4 linked regions of the Homo sapiens genome follow. The protein of the gene in region 2 interacts with the protein of the main gene of each other region in a pairwise test. Each region holds a gene or a part of one and is shown on either strand. Other genes may lie near its edges.

Region 1 (4,393 bases), on a different chromosome or scaffold from region 2:
GTCTTTGTTCTCATTATGGAGTGTGTGCGCCAGGGGTGGGTTGGGGAAGCCTGGGGCAGATGGGATGGGGGTGTGTACCTTCCCGGATGGCGGTGCAGGGTGCCCCCTCTTCATGTTCCAGTCTGATCTCCTTGAGTGCCACAAGGTTGTCTGTGAGCTTGCTTTTGCCTTTGTAGACGGTGGCATAGGTACCCTGGAATGTGAGGAAGTGTGACAGGAGAGGTGCTATGAGATTCCAGGAGTTCCCACTGACCTTCATCCCCACCATGGGCCTCCTATTTGCCTCTCACCTCGCCCAGTTTGTCCAGCTTAATGTAGGTCTCCAGTTTCCCAAAGCCAATCTCAGACTGTGGGACAAATGAGGCAGGTTAAAGCTGGCTCAGGAGAAGGGTCTGGGAGAGAAGAAAAAGGAGAGGACGGGAACAGAAGGTGCTTACTAGGCTGACACGACGGAGGCGGCGGCTGAGGGGCTTGTCAAAGATGGGGCTATTGAGGGTCAGCTTCTCCAGGTAGCCCTCAGGCAGCCGGATGTCAGCTGGTAGTGATAGGCGCTTGTTGATGTCCTAGCAGGTAAGGCAAGAGAGAAACAGGATCATGAGCTCCACCTCCCCAGGTCCAACCCCCTTTTCCAGTTCCTCCACCATCCAGACGGGGTCAAGCACCTCAGTGGAGATCTTGCGTGGGGGATGGTTGCGCATACGCACTCTCACTGGAGACTGCACCTCATCCGAGGACGTGGCTGAAGCCTGGTCACTCTCCCCATCAGACCCCATCTTCAAGTCCTCGTGCACAATCTCTGGTGGCAGGGAGAGGGGTAGGGCAGGCCAGGTGGGGTCAGGAACCACAGGACACCCCATCCCCCACGAAACATATTCCATCATCACACATGTGTGCACGTGGCCCCCACAGGAAACCTGGAGTCCCTCGGGGAGAGGGTGATGTACCTGAGCCCAGGGAAGCTCAGGTACATCTAGGGCAGGTTGAACTGGGGGGTGGGGAAGCAAAAGTCACCTAGTGGAACCCTTCCTTCCAAGGGCAAGCTGAGCTCAGAGCCGGCAGCTAGGTGGTGGCAGGGGAAGCCAAGGGTCCTGGGAAGGCAGGCCCAGGGCAGGCAGGTACCAGAGGACTGAGGAGGCCATCATAGAGGGCAGAAGGGCAGAGGGAGCCTTGGGGCAGCTGTGACAGGCAAGGCACCTTCTGTCCCCCACCACGGGGCCTGGGCAGAAAGGCAAGAAGAGGAGCGCAGATGGACAGATAGACAGACGGTGTTGAGAGAAGATGGGAGGGAAGGGGGAGAAGAGAGCACATGGGGGGCAGAGAAAGGGCAGAAAATTTAGAGGAAAATGAGGAATGTGACCAGGAGGCAACACCTGGGAAGCAGCCTGGGGCCATATGGGAGAGGGGATAGCCAGTGGACCCACCTGGTGCAGAGCTGAGTGGGCCCCGTGCAGAACGAAGTTCCCCAGGAGCAGCACGTGTGGGGGCCTCTCCAGGGTCACTGCCGCCACCACCACCACTCTCATCCAGGCCTATCTGCTCAGGGGCACCATTGGTCTTGTCTATGCCTCGGCCACCTCGGAGTGTCATTGACAGCTGCCGTTTGATCTTCTTCATCCGATCCATGGCGATCTGAGCAAGGGACAAGGATGGAAATGGGTCTCTTATTAGCATTTGCTTGATCACCATGGGTTCCCTAAAGCCCACAGCCTAGCAGGGGGCACTGACATGAACTTGTCAGTGCTCACTCAACCACTATGGACCCCAGAGCCACTCAGGAGTTCTGGAAACCCAGCATGGATGGGGATCTTTGTCAGTACCTGCCCACCCACACAGCCAGCCCCACTGGGACCCTGCTCCTACGTAGCCCACCTGAGTTCTCAGATTTAGGTGGCTGATTGAGGGCAAGGGCCCTAACGATGGATTGTTGGGATCTAGGGGAAAAGCCCCACTGCAGGAGCAGAAGGCTCCATTGCAGATCTTCTCAGGTACAGCTGCAGTGATGGGCCCAGCCATGGGTCGGCCAGGGCGTGTGCCCAGAATTGAAGGATGGGTGACATGGTCTCGAGCACGGCCATAGAGTGGCATAGTTCCCCTAGCACCACCCTCAAAGGCCAAGGCAGACTATTCCCTGTGGCCACAGGGACCCTCTTCCTGACTTCTCTAGCACTCATCGTCATGACAACCACTGCATCATCCCATTCATCTACCCAGGTGGGGGGGGGGAGGGGAGCGTGTGTCAGGGTGTCCTGCCCAGACCCAACCACTGGGTGGGATTGTGTGGAGGGCGGGGGGGTCTCAGTGTACACCAGCTCTTCTCAGGGCTGCCAGAACGGTTTGATCAGGTTAGGACCCCTAGGGTCCAATCTAGACTTTTACAAGCCAAGTCACATTTCTCCTCTACTCAAGAATGTACATTTTTCATCACCCCAAATACACGCCCCAGTCCTCAATGTGGCCCACAGGTGTTTCTTTACCTCATTTGCCCCTATTGCCTCTTGCCCACGGCCCCCCCCCACCCCCACACCCCCCCGCCATCATTCCTAGTTGCTGTTCTGCAACCACACCCAGTAGAGTCCCACCTCGGGGCCTTTACACTGGCTGTTCCTGGTACCTGGAACACCCTTCCCCTAAATTTCGAAATGGCTCACTCCCCTCTCCCTTTGGGCCATTGCTCAAAGGTCACCTTTTTCATGAGGCCTCTGTGAATAACCCTATTTAAAATCTCAACCATCCCGAACTCCCTCACCTTGCCAGTTATCCCCCCAGCACTCATTACCTCCTCAGAAATGACACCACCTACTTATTGGTTTCTTTAGTCTTTACTGTCTATCTCCTCACCGCCACAACTAGAAGATCAGCTCCGCCAGGGTAGATTTCTGTGTTTAGGTCACGGCTATATCCTGAGGACCTGGAATAGTGACTGACACAGAGTAGATGCTCAAAAAGTGCTTATGGCAGAAATAAGTGAATCAGGGGGCTGAGGGCCTAGGACCAACCTCTGCTGAGGTGATGAGTCCCTGCTATTCATTGAACAACCCTAAACAAGGTAGCCCAGGGATGCTGGCATCGACAGGAAGATGACCTAGATGGATTGCTGAAGGGAATGGGGCCACCAAAAGGCTTAGGCCAGCCGTCTTCTGCTTCCTCTTGGGCTCTGGGCCAGCAAGGAGGGGGAAAGACCTGACCCAGGAACCATCTGGACTCACAGCAGGGCCTAAGATGGCCCTGGGCCCAAGGGAAGTAGAGCTAGATAGGAGGTCGAGGATGAGACTGGGGCTGGATTTGAGGAGAGAAATGGGTCATCTGCTACCTTGAAATCAGGTGCTTCCCCCAGCAGTTCTCGCCCCCACCTGGCTGAACTCACTATCCCCAGGAGGGGTAGGGGCCACCCTAGCAGAAAGACCTCAGATACAGGATGAGGTCCATCCATGGAGAACCCAGGATAACCACAAAACATCCTGACCTGGGAGGCTGAATACTGGGCCTAAGGCAAGGAAGGTAAAGCATGGCCAGCTCCCAAAGACAACCTTGTGTCCCCATATGGCACAGATACCCAGTTGCTTTGCATGTTGTGACAGGGAGTAGGGGAGGGGCTGGGGGAGACTGGAAGTAGGGCTGAATGGAGGATGGGGAGGAAGCCAGGAGGAGCCATGGGTCCACGACCTCTAACTGGAAACCCCAAGGGCTGGACATGCTCTGGAGTTCAGTTTTTTGGGATTTTAGGAAGATGGGGTGTAAAATCTGTATATCACATAACACTCCCAGAAAGGGGGATGGGGGTCTCAGACATGCCCCTGTGAACAGAGATAATTGAACATTTATACGCAAGGAAACTTTTAAATATCATTTCAGTTGAATGAGCTTTTTAGATTTCAAAAAAGGAGGGAGCAAGAAACTGGACATAAAACCTTACCCCAAAAAAGGCACATGTCCTGCCTGACCCTTCCTGATCCCCAAAGACATACACCCATCCTCAGACTACTCTCATACTCAAGGATACTCAACACACCAACCACTAAGGACTTGGTCATCGCACCCTATGTCCTGATCCCCATTAATACACGCTAGACCCTCAAGGAGGCCTCACTACATCTTACCTGCTATTATCTCATATACCCATCAGCATTCAAAGCCCTAACACATAACATACCGCCCTGAACTCTGTCAGCACACACTTAGCCTCCTCTAAGTAACTCTTGCCACCACATTCTTGGGCCCCTCCCTGGCCTAGCTGCTTGTTACCTTCTCCATAGTACTGACTCCCCTCATTAACGTACTGTTCCCCCTACATGATTCTGACCTCTATTAACATGCACTTGGGGTACTCTATAGCTGACCCACATTAGCACTCACTGGACCTTCTTCATGCTGCTCTGAATGCTATTAACATAAA
Region 2 (5,288 bases):
TCTCCAGTTAGATAGTATCAGAATTGAACTGAATTACAGGACACCCAGGTGGTATCGAAGGCAGAACTGCTTGGTTGGTATGTGGGGGAAAACCATAGAAGTATTCTTTGTTGATGCTGAGTGAGAGAATAGGGAGGAAAAAAAGCACTTTGGTTCTTCTTATCCTTATAATTATATATACACACACACACACACACACACACACACACACACACACACTTTACATTCCAAAACAAAACCATCTTCCCTACCTCCAGCAGTCCTACAGCTATGGAAAGTGCCACCCCAGAGGAACGCAAAGGTCTCTTTCCCTGTGGTACAGGCCAAGGGTCTCGCTGGAGTTCTCCCAGAAGATCTGTGAGATTCATGTCTATTTTCTGTACTGGTTGTAAGAATCTAAGAAACAGAATTAAATAAAAAGCCATTTGTAAATGTTTATGGGTGAGAGTTCGATAAACAAATTTCACTTTCCTAAAAATAGAAAACAACACTCTGAACACACAGCAGACCAATGGTTCTCAAACTTTCGTGTATATGAGAACCAGCTGGAGGGCTTGTTTTAACACATATTGCTAGGTCCCAGTTCTAGAGTTTGTTTCGGTAGGTCTGGAGTGGAGCCGAAGAATTTGCATTTCAAACGCATTCCTAGGTGACACGTGATGATAACAGCCCCAGAAACCACATTTTGAATACAACCACAATAAACGAAACACTCAAACCAAGTACTTCAGGATTTCATCTCTCACTAGTCTAGTAAGTTTTAGGTTACTGAAATAATTATGAGAAAATACATCAACTAAATTTTAGTAATACTACCTCTGATTAGAAAGCTTAGGGGAAAAAGCTAGCAGGGCGCGGTGGCTCACACCTGTAATCCCAGCACTTTGGGAGGCCGAGGAGGGAGGATCATAAAGTCAGGAGATTGGGATGGTGAAACCCCGTCTCTACAAAAAATACAAAAATTAGCCAGGCATGGTGGTGCATGCCTGTAATCCCAGCTACTTGGGAGGCTGAGGCAGGAGAATTGTTTGAACCTGGGAGGCGGAAGTTGTAGTGAGCCAAGATCATGCCACTGCACTCCAGAAACCTTAGCGGGAAAAGCTACCTCTAAAGCTAAGAAGAAAAAATAAAAACCTTGGCTGCCCTAAAACCACACAAAAACAAGTTTTTTCCAAAGTTCAAAATAAAAAATAAGGAAAATAACAAAACTAAAGTAACTCCTTACATTGTTAAGACAAAAAACAAACCATTTTAATGACATGATTTTGACTCAATTCTTTAAAAAGTATGTTAATACAATTTACTTATATTCCTAAAAATATTTAACAATATAGTATCACTGAATGCCTATGTTCAAGGGTATGGAATGTTTAAAATAGCTACAGAAACGGTCAAATTCTCTTCATCATATTTATTACCTGTTGGAAGGAGGTGGCTGCTGTACCTGAGGACCACGTGTTGCTTGAGTAAGTGGTACTTTAGAGAGCCCCAGCATTTCCTGTAAAGAGATTACTTGTGCAATATTCATTTAATTACTTTTACAAAGATTTATCAACTATTTATCATGTATAAAATGCTGTGCTAGACATTAGAAACACAAAAATAAAAAATACAAGGTCTCCTTCCTCAGAAAACAAAGAATCCAGTGGGAGAGATTATCAAGAAAACAATAACACAAAATAATCATCATGAGAGAGAAAAGCACAAGGTGTTATATAACCAAAGAGGAGGCATATTAGCTCAAAAACACTTTATTTCTAATTAACAGTCAAAATAAATTGTTGTGTAACTTAAATGTCCATACTTCTTAATTTATATTCATTCATCCGTTTCAGCAAACTATATCATAAGCACCTGCTATGTGGCAGGAATACAATGGTAAAAACTAACTAGTCCCTTCCCTCATGGAAATTAAAATCCAGAAACATAAATTAATCAAATCAACAGATAAATAAATGTAAAATTGCAACAGTAGTAAATGTTAGGACTTGGGGAGTTATAAGGCTCACGTACTTTGTACCTATATACATCTTGATTTTCTAATGTAATTCATAACCAAACTACGAACTGCCACCTTTGTTTTGAATTTCAGATATGTGCACAATTTCTCTCTAGACAAATGAAAATAATGTTATACTAAATTTTTCTTGAATCTAGAAATGCTTAGTCATGAAGTACTGGAGTTATAAAACTGTGTAACAGAAAACTGAAGTCTAAAGATGTACAAAGATAAAATTAGTGAACTAATCCTGCAATATTTCCTATACTGTTAGCAGAAACAGCAACTCTTTACTAAGAACTTAATATGTTCCATATTCTATGCTAAAACCTTTATATATACTATTTCCTCACAAAACAATAATGAAATAGATTTCTTCTTAAATTCTACTTTATAAATGAAAATTGACAATCAGAAAGACTAAGTAATTTGTCTGAGGTTACACAATCAGTAAGTAACAAAGCAAGATTTTAAATCCAGGTTTTTCTATAAAGCTCTATAAGGGTTTACACCATATTGAGAATTTCATATTTAGTACTAATAACCTGGCAAAATAGGTAGTTTATTCCTTTCTATGAAGGATGACACAATCAGCAAAGACAAAAACCCAGGATCATACAACCAGAAGAGTTTAAGATTTGAATCCAGGACTATCTGGGGAGCAAAGGCCAGGCTCTTTTCAACTAATAATAGGGAAAGAATAGGGAAATTTAATCTAAATAGGGAAAGAAAATAAACATGTTTCAATGGAGAAAAAAAATTCAGTCTGCAGGCATTCACTTGCCTATTGAAAAAAGGAAGATGTGGCCAGGCGCAGTGAATCACAGCTGTAATCCCAGTATTTTGGGAGGCCGAGGCGGGTGGATCACCTGAGGTCAGGAGTTCAAGACCAGCCTGGCCAACATGGTGAAACCCCATGTCTACTAAAAATACAAAAATTAGGGCCAGGTGCGGTGGATCATGCCTGTAATCCCAGCACTTTGGGAGGTCAAGGTGGGCAAATCACAAGGTCAGAAGTTCAAGACCAACCTTGGCTAACATGGTGAAGCACCAACTCTACTAAAAATACAAAAATTAGTAAGGCATGGTGGTATGCTCCTGTAATCCCAGCTACTTGGGAGGCTGAGGCAAGAGAAGCGCTTGAACCCAAGAGGCAGAGGTTGCAGTGAGCTGAGATCGTGCCACCGCACTCCAGCCCGGGTGACAGAGCGAGACTCTGTCTCAGACAAACAAAAAAAAACTAGGCCGGCCTCAGTGGCTCACACCTGTAATCCCAGCACTTTGGGAGGCTGAGGCAGGGGGATCACCTGAGCTCAGGAATTCAAGCAGCCTGGCTAACATGGTGAAACCTTGTCTCTACTAAAAAATACAAAAATTGGCCAGGCGCGGTGGCTCACGCCTGTAATCCCAGCACTTTGGGAGGCCAAAGCAGGCAGATCACGAGGTCAGGAGATCAAGACCATCCTGGCCAACATGGTGAAACCCGGTCTCTACTAAAAATACAGAAAAAAAAAATTAGCCGGGTGTGGTGGCATGCGCCTGTAGTCCCAGCTACTCGGGAGGCTGAGGCAGGAGAATCGCTCGAACTAAGGAGGCGGAGATTGCAAGATCATGCCACTGCACTCCAGCCTGGGTGACAGAGCAAGACTCCGTGTCAAAAAAAAAAAAAAAAAGAAAAAAAAAGGAAGATGTTTTATGTGCTTCATATGCATTATATAAGTAAAAGGTACTCTACAATCAGAACAGTAAACTATTCTAAATAAATTCATAATTTAATAATAACATTAATAGTAGCAAATGCTTAAATGTACAATTCATTTAATTCTCATGACTACACTATAAGGTATATACTATTACTATCTCTATTTTACAATTGAAAAAAACTAAAGCACAGAGATTTCAACTGGTTCACTTTCTCTCCTGTCTCATGGAAACATGATTCTCCTCTCTAAGGTACTCCGCTTCCTGTGCTCCTGAAGGAATCCCTACTATGTCTTCCTAAACCTGACTTTCCTCATCTCACTCTTGCTTTAACTCACCCTCTTTAGTCTCTTTCCTTTCTCCTTCCTCCTAAAGTACATCTCTTTAACTCAGTTCTCTCTCAAATTCCCATGCTATCTCCTCCTTCATTACCTTCAACAAACCTCTTAAAAGAACAAACTTCAGGCCGAGCACGGTGGCTCACTCCTGTAGTCCCAGCACTCTGGGAGGCCGAGGAAGGTGGATATCCTGAGGTCAGGAGTTCAAGACCAGCCTGGCCAACATAGTGAAACCACGTCTCTACAAAAATACCAAAATTAGCTGGGCATGATGGCGGGTGCCAGTAGTCCCAGCTACTCGAGAGGCTGAGGCAGGAGAATAGCTTGAACCCGGGAGGCGGAGGTTGCAGTGAGCCAAGATTGTGCCAATGCAGTCCAGCCTGGGTGACAGAGCGAGACTCTTGTCTCAGAAGAAAAAGAACAAATTTCAACTTTCTCTACCTTCTCAAATCTTATTCACTATTCATTGACTAACGCATTCATTACTCATTATCCTCCCCATTTAAACCTGCAAATTCCCCTAGTATGTTCTCTTAGTTAACTGCAGCACCACTACCTCAGTCTGCCAAGTTTCAAATTAGACTCACCCTCAAAAATCTCTTCCTTTCTTCTTCATTTTGGTCTACCTGGAAGCCTCTAAAGTCTGATTTTACATCTGTCAACTTTATGCCAGGCTTATCTATCATCTTCTAGGGTAAATGTTCTCAACTAGGAGTTGCACCAGAATTACTTAGAAAGTTTTTTCAAAGTACCTACATGAACAATCTTATATTATATATATAAGGTATATATACCAACTATCCCCCAATACAAACAGACATTCACTTATTACTCTCTTATGGACTATCAAAATCTCTGGGCAGAAAAAAAGATGTTCATCTGAGCAGATGATCCTAGTATGCTACACATAACTCCTTTGCCTTGGAAGAGAAAGCTTCAATTTGTCCCAGTGATAAAAACCACTAAAAAACATATGTAACCATAGTTCCTACACTAAAAATCGTCCAGTCTCAAAATAACTTCCCTCACCAAACATACTAAAAGTATTTAGTTCTTAAGTGAAATGTTAAGAAATAAAAGCTCTCTCCTCAGCTGCCACCAAGGTTCTCGGTTCTTATGAGGAAGCCAAGACCACACTGGGGTGAGACCCTCACTTCATCAGGTGACTAGCACCATGTCAGGCAGCACCAGCCCTGCACTCGCCCACATCATGGCCTCCATCTCAAGTTCTTCTGTATCTCCTTGGACCT
Region 3 (4,393 bases), on a different chromosome or scaffold from region 2:
TTTTGTATTTGTAATAGAGACAGGGTTTCACCATGTTGGTCAGGCTGGTCTTGAACTCCTGACCTCCGGTGATCCACTCCCCCTCCCTTGGCCTCCCAAAGTGGTGGGATTACAGGCATGAGCCGCTGAGCCCGGCCCCAGCCTTTGTTTTTGGTTAGTACTGTTACATTGGCAAGATTTATTGCATTTATATAATGTTTTATAACTCTTCTAAAGTTTTCTGTGCTTCTGCAGGAAAATCTAGAAATTGAGTACTAATAGCCACTCTTTTAAATATGTATGTTGACATGAGTATTAGTTACTATAGAACCAAGTACTGTGGAGCCATAGAGAAACTTCACTTCTGTTAAACCTGTGATCCTTAAAAAGGAAATATAACAAAGTCAGCCGGGCACAGTGGCTCACGTCTGTAAGCCCAGCACTTTGAGAGGCCCAGGCAGGCGGATCGCCTCAGGTCAGGAGTTAGAGACCAGCCTGGCTAACATGGTGAAACCCCGTCTCTACTAAAAATGCAAAAATTAGCCCGACGTGGTGGTGGGCACCTGTAATCCCAGCTACTCGGGAGGCTGAGGCAGGAGAATTGCTTGAACCCGGGAGGTGGAGGTTGCAGTGAGCCAAGATCATGTCATTGCACTCCAGGCTGGGTGACAAAGCAAGGCTTCGTCTCAGGAAAAAAAAAAAAAAAAGAAATATAACAAAGTCCTGGTTGAATGAGGAAAGCTCATTGAAGTTATTTTTAAAATTTAATATTATAATGGGTTCTCATGTTGTAGCCATTCAGCTTGTCTTGGTAGACTTTCCGGAGTCTTGGCCTGCCTTTTCTAATTTGGGAAGCTTAGTAGACCTGTTACCCAGCTGTCATCCTGGGATTACTTCACATTGTTCTCCTGGGTTAGATCTATTGTTATTTGGATCCCATGTTTTTCTCTTTTAGATACCTTTTTTATTTTACAGGAATACAGCCTTCAATAGTTGTTTCTGGAAGGATATGCTGGTGATAAACTTTCTGAGTTCTCGAATGTTGAAAATGGCTTGTCTTTGTTCCTGATTGAAAGTTTACATGTGGAATTATAAATTCCTCAGAATTTTGAAAACTTTGCTGTGGGAATCTAAAATACTTGGTGTGCTAATCAGAGGTCCATTGCAGATCTGATGGTTATTCTCCTGTAGAAGATTGTAATCTACAATTGTAGTCTACGATCTACGGGATTTGTTTACATTCTGAAAGGTTTCTTTGATTTTGTCTTTGAACTTTTCTATAAAATTTATTTCAGTAGTTATCTTTAATTTATAAGAGTTCTTCTATCATCTTTCATTTTTCTTTCTTTTTAAATAGCAACCTGTCCTTGATTTATGGGGAAATACCTTGAATTTCTCTGATGCTAATTTCTCTAGAGTTCTTGAGACACTTCCCTGAATTGGTGACTCTAACAGTGGGTTTGTATTTAGGTATTCCATACTAATTTTTGTATTTTAAATATTTAAGTTATTTGATAAGTACAAAAGATTATAACAGGTAAGGCGTATGTAAACAAACATACATATAATTACCAACCAGTTTACTAATTCATTAGTGTAACTTTAGCAGGATGCACTTTCCTGATCACATCCACTGCAACCATGTCCACCTTCACCAATGACAGTAGCCATTGTACTGAATTTTGGATTCATCATTCCTGGTCTGTCTTTATACTTTTAACATATATACATATGTAAAATTTATTTATTTATTTATTTATTTTTTGAGACGGAGTTTTGCTCTTCTTGCCCAGGCTGGAGTGCAGTGGCGCGATCTTGACTCACCGCAACCTCCTCCTCCCAGGTTCAAGCAATTTTACTGCCTCAGCCTCCCGAGTAGCCGGGATTACAGGTGTGCACCATGCCCGGCTAATTTTTTTGTATTATTAGTTTTCACCATGTTGGCCAGGCTGGTCTTGAACTCCTGACTTCAGGTGATCCACCCGCCTTGGCCTCCCAAAGTGCTGGGATCACAGGTGTGAGCTACTGTGTCTGGCCATCCATATTTCTTAAATCCAAATGTTTGAAAATGAAGAGAAAAAAACTGTAAAGTTTCACCAAACTTGTCTTGCAGAAAAACCCTGACCTGCACTGATATTGTAATCTTTGTTGATCTCACTTAGTGTGAATATTTGTATGTTTCACTGTAGAGATTCTAGGAATAGAATTGCTGGTATTTAAGAAGAATGTGTGCATATTCACCAATATTGGATAATGTCAGATTATCTTCCAAAAAAGGTGGTGTCAGTCTTCGTTCTCTCCAGCAATGCAGAAGTTTTCATTACTCAGCTTTCTTGCTAACATCTACTTTTGTCACACTTCAAAAGGTTTTATCGGTTGGGCATGGTAGCTCACGCCTGTAATCCTAGCACTTTGGGAGGCCATGGTGGGTGGATGGCTTGAGACCAGGAGTTTGAGACCAGCCTGGGTAAAATGGTGAAACCCCATCTCTACCAAAACAAAACAAAATTAGCTGGGCATAGTGGCCCACACCTGTAGTCCCAGCTACTTGGCAGGCTGAGATGGGAGGATCACCTGAAGCTAGGAAGTGAGCTGTGATCATGCCATTGCACGCCAGCTTGGGCAACAGAGTGAGACCCTGTTTCAAAAAAAAAAGTTTTTACCCACGAGTATAAAATACCACCTTTTAGTTTTCATTTGCTTTGCTAATGAGTTTGAGCATCTTTTACTATACTGATTAGCCATTCTTCCCTTTTCTCACATTCCTATTCATGTCTTTTGCCCATGTTTGTACTAGTTTTTTAAAAAAATTATTTCATACTGATTTTTAATAGTTTCACAGTTGGATGCATGTGGTGCAAATTTCTCCTTTCAATTGGGCTCACTTTTAAATCATTTTTATTTTTATTTTTTGAGATGGAGTCTCACTCTGTAGCCCTGGCTGGAGTGCAGTGGCGTGATCTCAGTTTACTGCACCCTCCACCCCCAAGGTTCAAGAGATTCTCCTGTCTCAGACTTCTGAGTAGCTGGGATTACAGGTACCCGCCACCATGCCTGGCTAATATTTGTATTTTTAATAGAGACGGGGTTTCACCATGTTGGTCAAGCTGGTCTCGAACTCCTGACCTCAGGTGATCTGCCCACCTTGGTCTCCCAAAGTGCTGGGATTATAGGCATGAGCAACTGCATCCAGCCTTATGCGTTTTTTGATGAGTAGAAGTTCTTAATTTTTATGTGATTGCATTTATCAGGCTTTTCTTTATGGATAGTGCTTTTGAATCTTGTTGAAGAAATTTTTCAACAGAGTTCTCGAAGATATTTTCCATTATTGTAAAAGTATAAGACGTAGTTTTTTTGTTTTTTGTTTTTGTTTTTTTTTTACCTTTTCTCATTTAAGGTTTTAATCCACCTGGAGTTGATTTTGTATACAGTGTGAAGTGGTGACCAAGATGCATGGTTTTTCCTCAAAGAATAATAAATTGTTCCATCACCTTTCATGCAAATTTTTTTCTTCACTGGTTTGGATGCCATCACTCATCTGTGCTTTGGTTCTGGACTCTGGGCCGTTAGTCTGTTTTTACAGAAATTGTTAAAAAGTTACAGTAACTAAAACAAGATGATGCTGCTGCTAGCATAAACAAACTTCTTGCCTGGTGAGGTGGCTCAAGGCTGTAATCCCATCACTTTGGGAGGCCATGGTGGGAGCATCACTTGAGCCAGGAGTTCAAGACCAGCCTGGGCAACATGGTGAGACCCCATCTCTGTGTAAGATAATATTTTTTATAATAAAAAACCAAACTTCTTTTGATATATAGCATACACATAGGAAGTACACAGATAATGAAATTATAGCTGGATGAATTTTCTCAAAATAATAATCGTGCAGGTCAAGAAAGAGAACATTACCAGCACTCTAAATATTCCCCTCCCCAGTGGCTAACCTCACCTCATTCTTCCAAAAGCGACCTACTATCCTAACTTTAACAGATTAGTATTGCCTGTTTTTGAACTTTATATAAATGGAACCTGTGTAGTATATATACAGTTGCCCCTTGGTGTACCTGGGGGATTGGTTCTAGGATCCACCCTCCCAACAGGAAAATCATGTGTACTCAAGTCCTGAAGTTGGCCCTGCAGAACCCATGTATAGGAAAAGTTGGCCCTCTGTATATGTGGGTTTCACGTCCTGCAAATACCATATTTTTGATCTGCATTTGGTTGAAAAAAAAATATGCGTATAAGTGGACCTGCACAGTTCAAACCAGTTGACAAGATACAGTTGACCTTTGACTAACACAGGTTTTTGTTATTGGATATGTTATTGTTATTCAATATTCAACTATATGTTATTGTTATTCAAAGGTCAACTGTATTCTGTTTCTGTATATGTATTCTGTTGTTTCTGCCTTTTTTT
Region 4 (4,393 bases), on a different chromosome or scaffold from region 2:
TACTCGGGAGGCTGAGGCCAGAGAATTGCTTGAACCCGGGAGGTGAAGGTTGCATTGAGTGGAGATTGCGCCACTACACTCCAGCCTGGGCAACAGAGCGAGACTCTGTCTCAAAAAAAAAAAAAAAAATTTGGCCGGGCGCGGCGGCTCACGTCTGTAATCCCAGCATTTTGGGAGGCCAAAGTGGGCAGATCACAAGGTCGGGAGTTTGAGACAAGCCTGGCCAATATGGTGAAATCCCATCTCTACTAAAAATACAAAAAATTTGCCAGGCGTGGCGGCAGTTGCCTCTAGTCCTAGCTACTTGGGAGGCTGAGGCAGGAGAATAGCTTGAACCTGGGAGGCGGAGACTGCAGTGAGCTGAGATCACACCACTGTACTCCAGTCTGGGCGACAGAGCGAGACTCCATCTCAAAAAAAAAAAAAAAAAAATTAGCTGGGTGTAGTGGTGCATGCCTGTAATCCCAGCTACTTGGGCGGCTGAGGCACAATAATTGCTTGAACCTGGGAGGTGGAGGTTGCAGCGAGCAGAGATCACACCACTGAACCCCAGACTGGGCAACAGAGCAAGACTCTGTCTCAAAAAAAAAAAAAAAAAACCCAGGATATTTTACAGAAGACTGGTTCTGGCCTCTCTTGAGGCACCAGCAGATCTGGCTGCCTTGAGCCAAGTGGTGGCTGCCCTTGGTAAAAGGGGGAAATGGCTGCAATCCCCCACCACTCCAAACAACTTCTTGGCATGCTCTTTCTTCAAGCTGAGACAGAGGTCTGGGTACTACATACCTAGCACAAGTGGGAAGATACAGATCAAGGGGCTATGTGTGTGTGAATATCAACTGTTTGTGAATGGGCACATGATACCCATGAGTGGAAGTACACAGGCTCACCCATAGCACTGTCCATGAACGACCAGAAACGGTCAGTGATGGGTCCCCACCCGTGCTGCCTACCGTGTGGCGAGTAGACTCGAAGGTTGATGGGCACTGGGGAGATGCCTTTGTTGGTCCCCGTGACCCTGTCGGTCTCTGCTTCAATCTCCTGCCGGACTTCATCAAAGTCTGTAAACTTTTTGGACTTGCAGTGCAAAAACTCGGCATGTTCTAGAAAGGGAAGAGAGATGCTGAAAATGAGAAAGAGCTGTGGGCAGGGTGCGCATGGACTGCGGGGAGAAATGCTTTGTTGAATGAAAGTAATGACCCAGGCTGGGCACAGTAGCTCACGCCTGTAATCCCAGCACTTTGGGAGGCAGAGGTGGGCAGATCACAAGGTCAGGAGATTCAGACCATCCTCACTAACATGGTGAAACCCTGTCTCTACTAAAAATACAAAAAATTAGCCTGGCATGGTGGCACATGCCTGTAGTCTCAGCTACTCAGGAGGCTGAGGCAGGATAATTGCTTGAACCCGGGAGGCGGAGGTTGTAGTGAGCCGAGATTGCGCCACTGCACTCTAGCCTGGGAGACAGAGAAGACTCCATCTCAAAAAAATAAAAAAATAAATAAAATAAAATAAAATAAAATAAAAAAGAAAATAATGACCCAATCATCGTCACTCTAGGAATTTGGGAGTGAAAGATTCGTTCTCATGACAAGGGTCTTGGGGGAGGCGGGGGTTCCTATAGACTGAATAGACTGAGCCTCTTTCCAGATCCTGAAGATTACGTTCCCATGTGGCACTTTGCAAACTGTTAATATACGTCATGACATATTATGAATCCCCCTCCCCCAAAAATAAACAGGTAGACATAACCAATGACCAAAGTTTCTGGGATTACAGGCATATGCCTCCACGCCCAGCCATTTATTTGTTGATTGACTGATGAACAGAAGAGGAAGCACCAGGATACATCACCCAGAGAGGGTGAGTCCATTTGATTAAGGTGATGCTGCAGAGCCTCCCTTGCTGTGGGTCCCAGTCAAGGGAGTTCGATGCCCAAGTCCTTGTGGATTCATGGTCCACCAGCACATTCCAGCTCCACAAAATCCCCAGGGGTATTTCTCATGGCACTCACTTGTCCTTCTTCCCCAAGGAGCCCACAAGGTAGAGGGAAGGGGCACCCCTGCCGCCTCCTCAGAGCTGGTCTTGAGTCTTTCTTTCTCCCCCTGACTATTCAAGAGGGCCCCCTACCTAGAGACAAATCCCCCAGGAGAAATGTTTTCTGGGTATAACCCTGAGTGTATATAAGACCCGGGGGTATCTGAAAGTCACAGCAAGACTGGGATGAAGGGGAACAAAATAAGTAATTGACAAGCAGTGTGGGTCCCACCAGGAAACAAGAGAAATCCAGTCCCGAATCACAGATTGAGGACAAAGCAAATATAAGGCATGTTCATCACGGAAGGTGGCTGCCGAGTACACAGGTGTCCACTGTACAAAGCCTTGACGTTTCCAGATGTTCGAATTTTCAGAGTAAAATGTTGGGGAGGGGATATCCCCAAAGCTCAGAGATCACAGCTACTGTAGTGATGCTAAAAATAAGGGGGAAATGGCTGGGCACAGTGGCTCACGCCTATTATCCAGCACTGTGGGACGCCGAGGAGGGTGGATCACTTGAGCCCAGGAGTTCAAGACCGGCCTGGGTGACACAGTGAGACCCCGTCTCTACAGAAATTTAAAAAATTAGCCAGGCATGTTGGCGCACACCTGTAGTTCCAGCTACTTGGGAGGCTGATATGGTCTGGCTCTGTGTCCCCACCCAAATCTCATCTTGTAGCTCCCATAATTCCCTTGTGTTGTAGCAGGGACCCAGTGGGAGATCAATGAATCATGGGGGTGGGTCTTTCCCGTGCTATTCTCGTGATAGAGAATAAGTCTCACGAGATCTGATGGTTTTAAAAACAGGAGTTTCCCTGCAGAAGCTCTCTCACTCTCTTTGCCAGCTGCCATCCGTATAAGATGTGACTTGCTCCTCCTTGCCTTCTGCCATGATTGTGGGGCTTCCCCAGCCCAGCTGTGTGGAACTGTAACTCCATTAAACCTCTTTCTTTTGTAAATTGCCCGGTCTCAAATACGTCTTTATCAGCAGCATGAAAATGGATTAATATCGGCTGAAGTGGGAGGATCATTTGAGCCAGGAGCTGGAGGTTGCAGTGAGCTATGATCTATGATCACACCACTGCATTCCAGCCTGGCGACAGAGCAAGACACTGTCTCAAAAAGAAAAACAAAGAAAGAAAGGGGTAATAAGTCACACTGGCAAAGAGGTCAGAGACCTGACCCACCCCGGAGATGCGAAGATGCGCACTGCCCTGTCGTTTTTAAGAGTAAAAAAATGAAAATGGCCTCAACGTCCACCAGGAGGAGACCTGGCGACGTGAATAACACAGCCATGCCATAAACTGCCTCAAGCAAAGGCAAAAAGGGAGATGAACACCCAGCCAGGTCTAGAATCTTCAAGGCAGAAAGAAGAGTGTGAGGAGTTTCACCGTCCCATCATGGCAACCGAAGAAACTACGGCACTCTGGCCAGGCCCTGCGTGTGGTCCCGTTGCGCCTCACAAGTCCCTTGACAGGTAGGCATCTCTAAGATCCCCATTTCAAAGATGACAAAACTGAGGCCCAGAGGGGTTAAGGGCCTTGGGCCAAGTTCCGTGATGGAGCTGGGACTTGGAACTCAGAAATTCTGGCTTCAGGTAATGGCTCCTAAGCCAGATAGCCTTTGTGAGGCCACTGGAAGGAACTTCGCCTCTTTGAAATTCTCTGCAGGGTCAGGGGGAGACTCAGTGGGCTCCGATGACTGAGGACCGTGTCCAGCACAGGCACTGGCCACCCAGATCAGGGCAATGAGGACATCTGCTGGAGGATTCAGGATCCCCACCCCCACCCCCAGCCCTGCTATCAGCTGACCCAGTTCCCAAGGACAGTTACACTCCAGCCTTCTGCAGGGACAAGGGGAAACACTCGGCCGCTCTTCCTGTAGCAGCCACTAAAAATGGAACAGCTCCCAACCCCCCACAGCAAATCTCAGTTCTCTTCTGGCTCCAGGACCCCAGCTTAGCCCCAAAAGAGACCATCTCCCTTCAAAGAGTGCAGGGGGACATGGCGTGGAAGATGGGCTGGTGGCAAGGACACAGGCCCTCTCCCTAGCAGGCCTCTGTCCCACCAAGTGTGGTGTCTACAAAGCCCAGCCCTACCTCCTCCTACTCCCAGGTCTGCCTGGCTACCACCTCTCCCAGGAAGACTTCCCTGAGTGGGGCATCTTGGCCTCTTCCTCATCAGAGCCAGCTCACTTTGGATTGTATTGATGGGGCCAGGACCTGCGGCTCCAGCACCCCAGAGCCCAGCATGTACTGGCAGCACGCTGTGTGCAGTAATGAGCTCAGTCTGTAGTCAGAGGGCCTGCCCAGGTCTCAGTCTACTGATCTGTAAAATGCGCATCATAACAGGCTGTATGA

Evidence for each region. Proteins that work in one complex are often made in the same cells at the same time.
Region 1: the proteins of SEC23A (region 2) and CDK16 interact in binary tests that used the Homo sapiens proteins (3 or more experiments, as listed by UniProt).
Region 3: the proteins of SEC23A (region 2) and PIAS2 interact in binary tests that used the Homo sapiens proteins (3 or more experiments, as listed by UniProt).
Region 4: the proteins of SEC23A (region 2) and DNM2 interact in binary tests that used the Homo sapiens proteins (3 or more experiments, as listed by UniProt).

The regions. Positions count from the first base shown.
Region 1 is NC_000023.11:47,220,788-47,225,180, reverse strand, and holds part of CDK16 (cyclin-dependent kinase 16), read right to left. Parts: exon of another isoform or gene 2,921-4,393; coding exon of another isoform or gene 2,839-2,920; exon of another isoform or gene 2,801-2,838; intron 2,131-2,800; exon of another isoform or gene 2,086-2,130; coding exon of another isoform or gene 1,870-2,085; intron 1,630-1,869; coding exon of another isoform or gene 1,624-1,629; coding exon 1,422-1,623; intron 797-1,421; coding exon 663-796; intron 564-662; coding exon 438-563; intron 348-437; coding exon 291-347; intron 194-290; coding exon 79-193; intron 1-78. UniProt on the Homo sapiens protein: Protein kinase that plays a role in vesicle-mediated transport processes and exocytosis. Regulates GH1 release by brain neurons. Phosphorylates NSF, and thereby regulates NSF oligomerization. Required for normal spermatogenesis.
Region 2 is NC_000014.9:39,085,511-39,090,798, forward strand, and holds part of SEC23A (protein transport protein Sec23A), read right to left. Parts: intron 1,499-5,288; coding exon 1,419-1,498; intron 397-1,418; coding exon 252-396; intron 1-251.
Region 3 is NC_000018.10:46,907,508-46,911,900, reverse strand, and holds part of PIAS2 (E3 SUMO-protein ligase PIAS2), read left to right. Parts: intron 1-4,393. UniProt on the Homo sapiens protein: Functions as an E3-type small ubiquitin-like modifier (SUMO) ligase, stabilizing the interaction between UBE2I and the substrate, and as a SUMO-tethering factor.
Region 4 is NC_000019.10:10,769,186-10,773,578, reverse strand, and holds part of DNM2 (dynamin-2), read right to left. Parts: intron 1,101-4,393; coding exon 951-1,100; intron 1-950. UniProt on the Homo sapiens protein: Catalyzes the hydrolysis of GTP and utilizes this energy to mediate vesicle scission at plasma membrane during endocytosis and filament remodeling at many actin structures during organization of the actin cytoskeleton.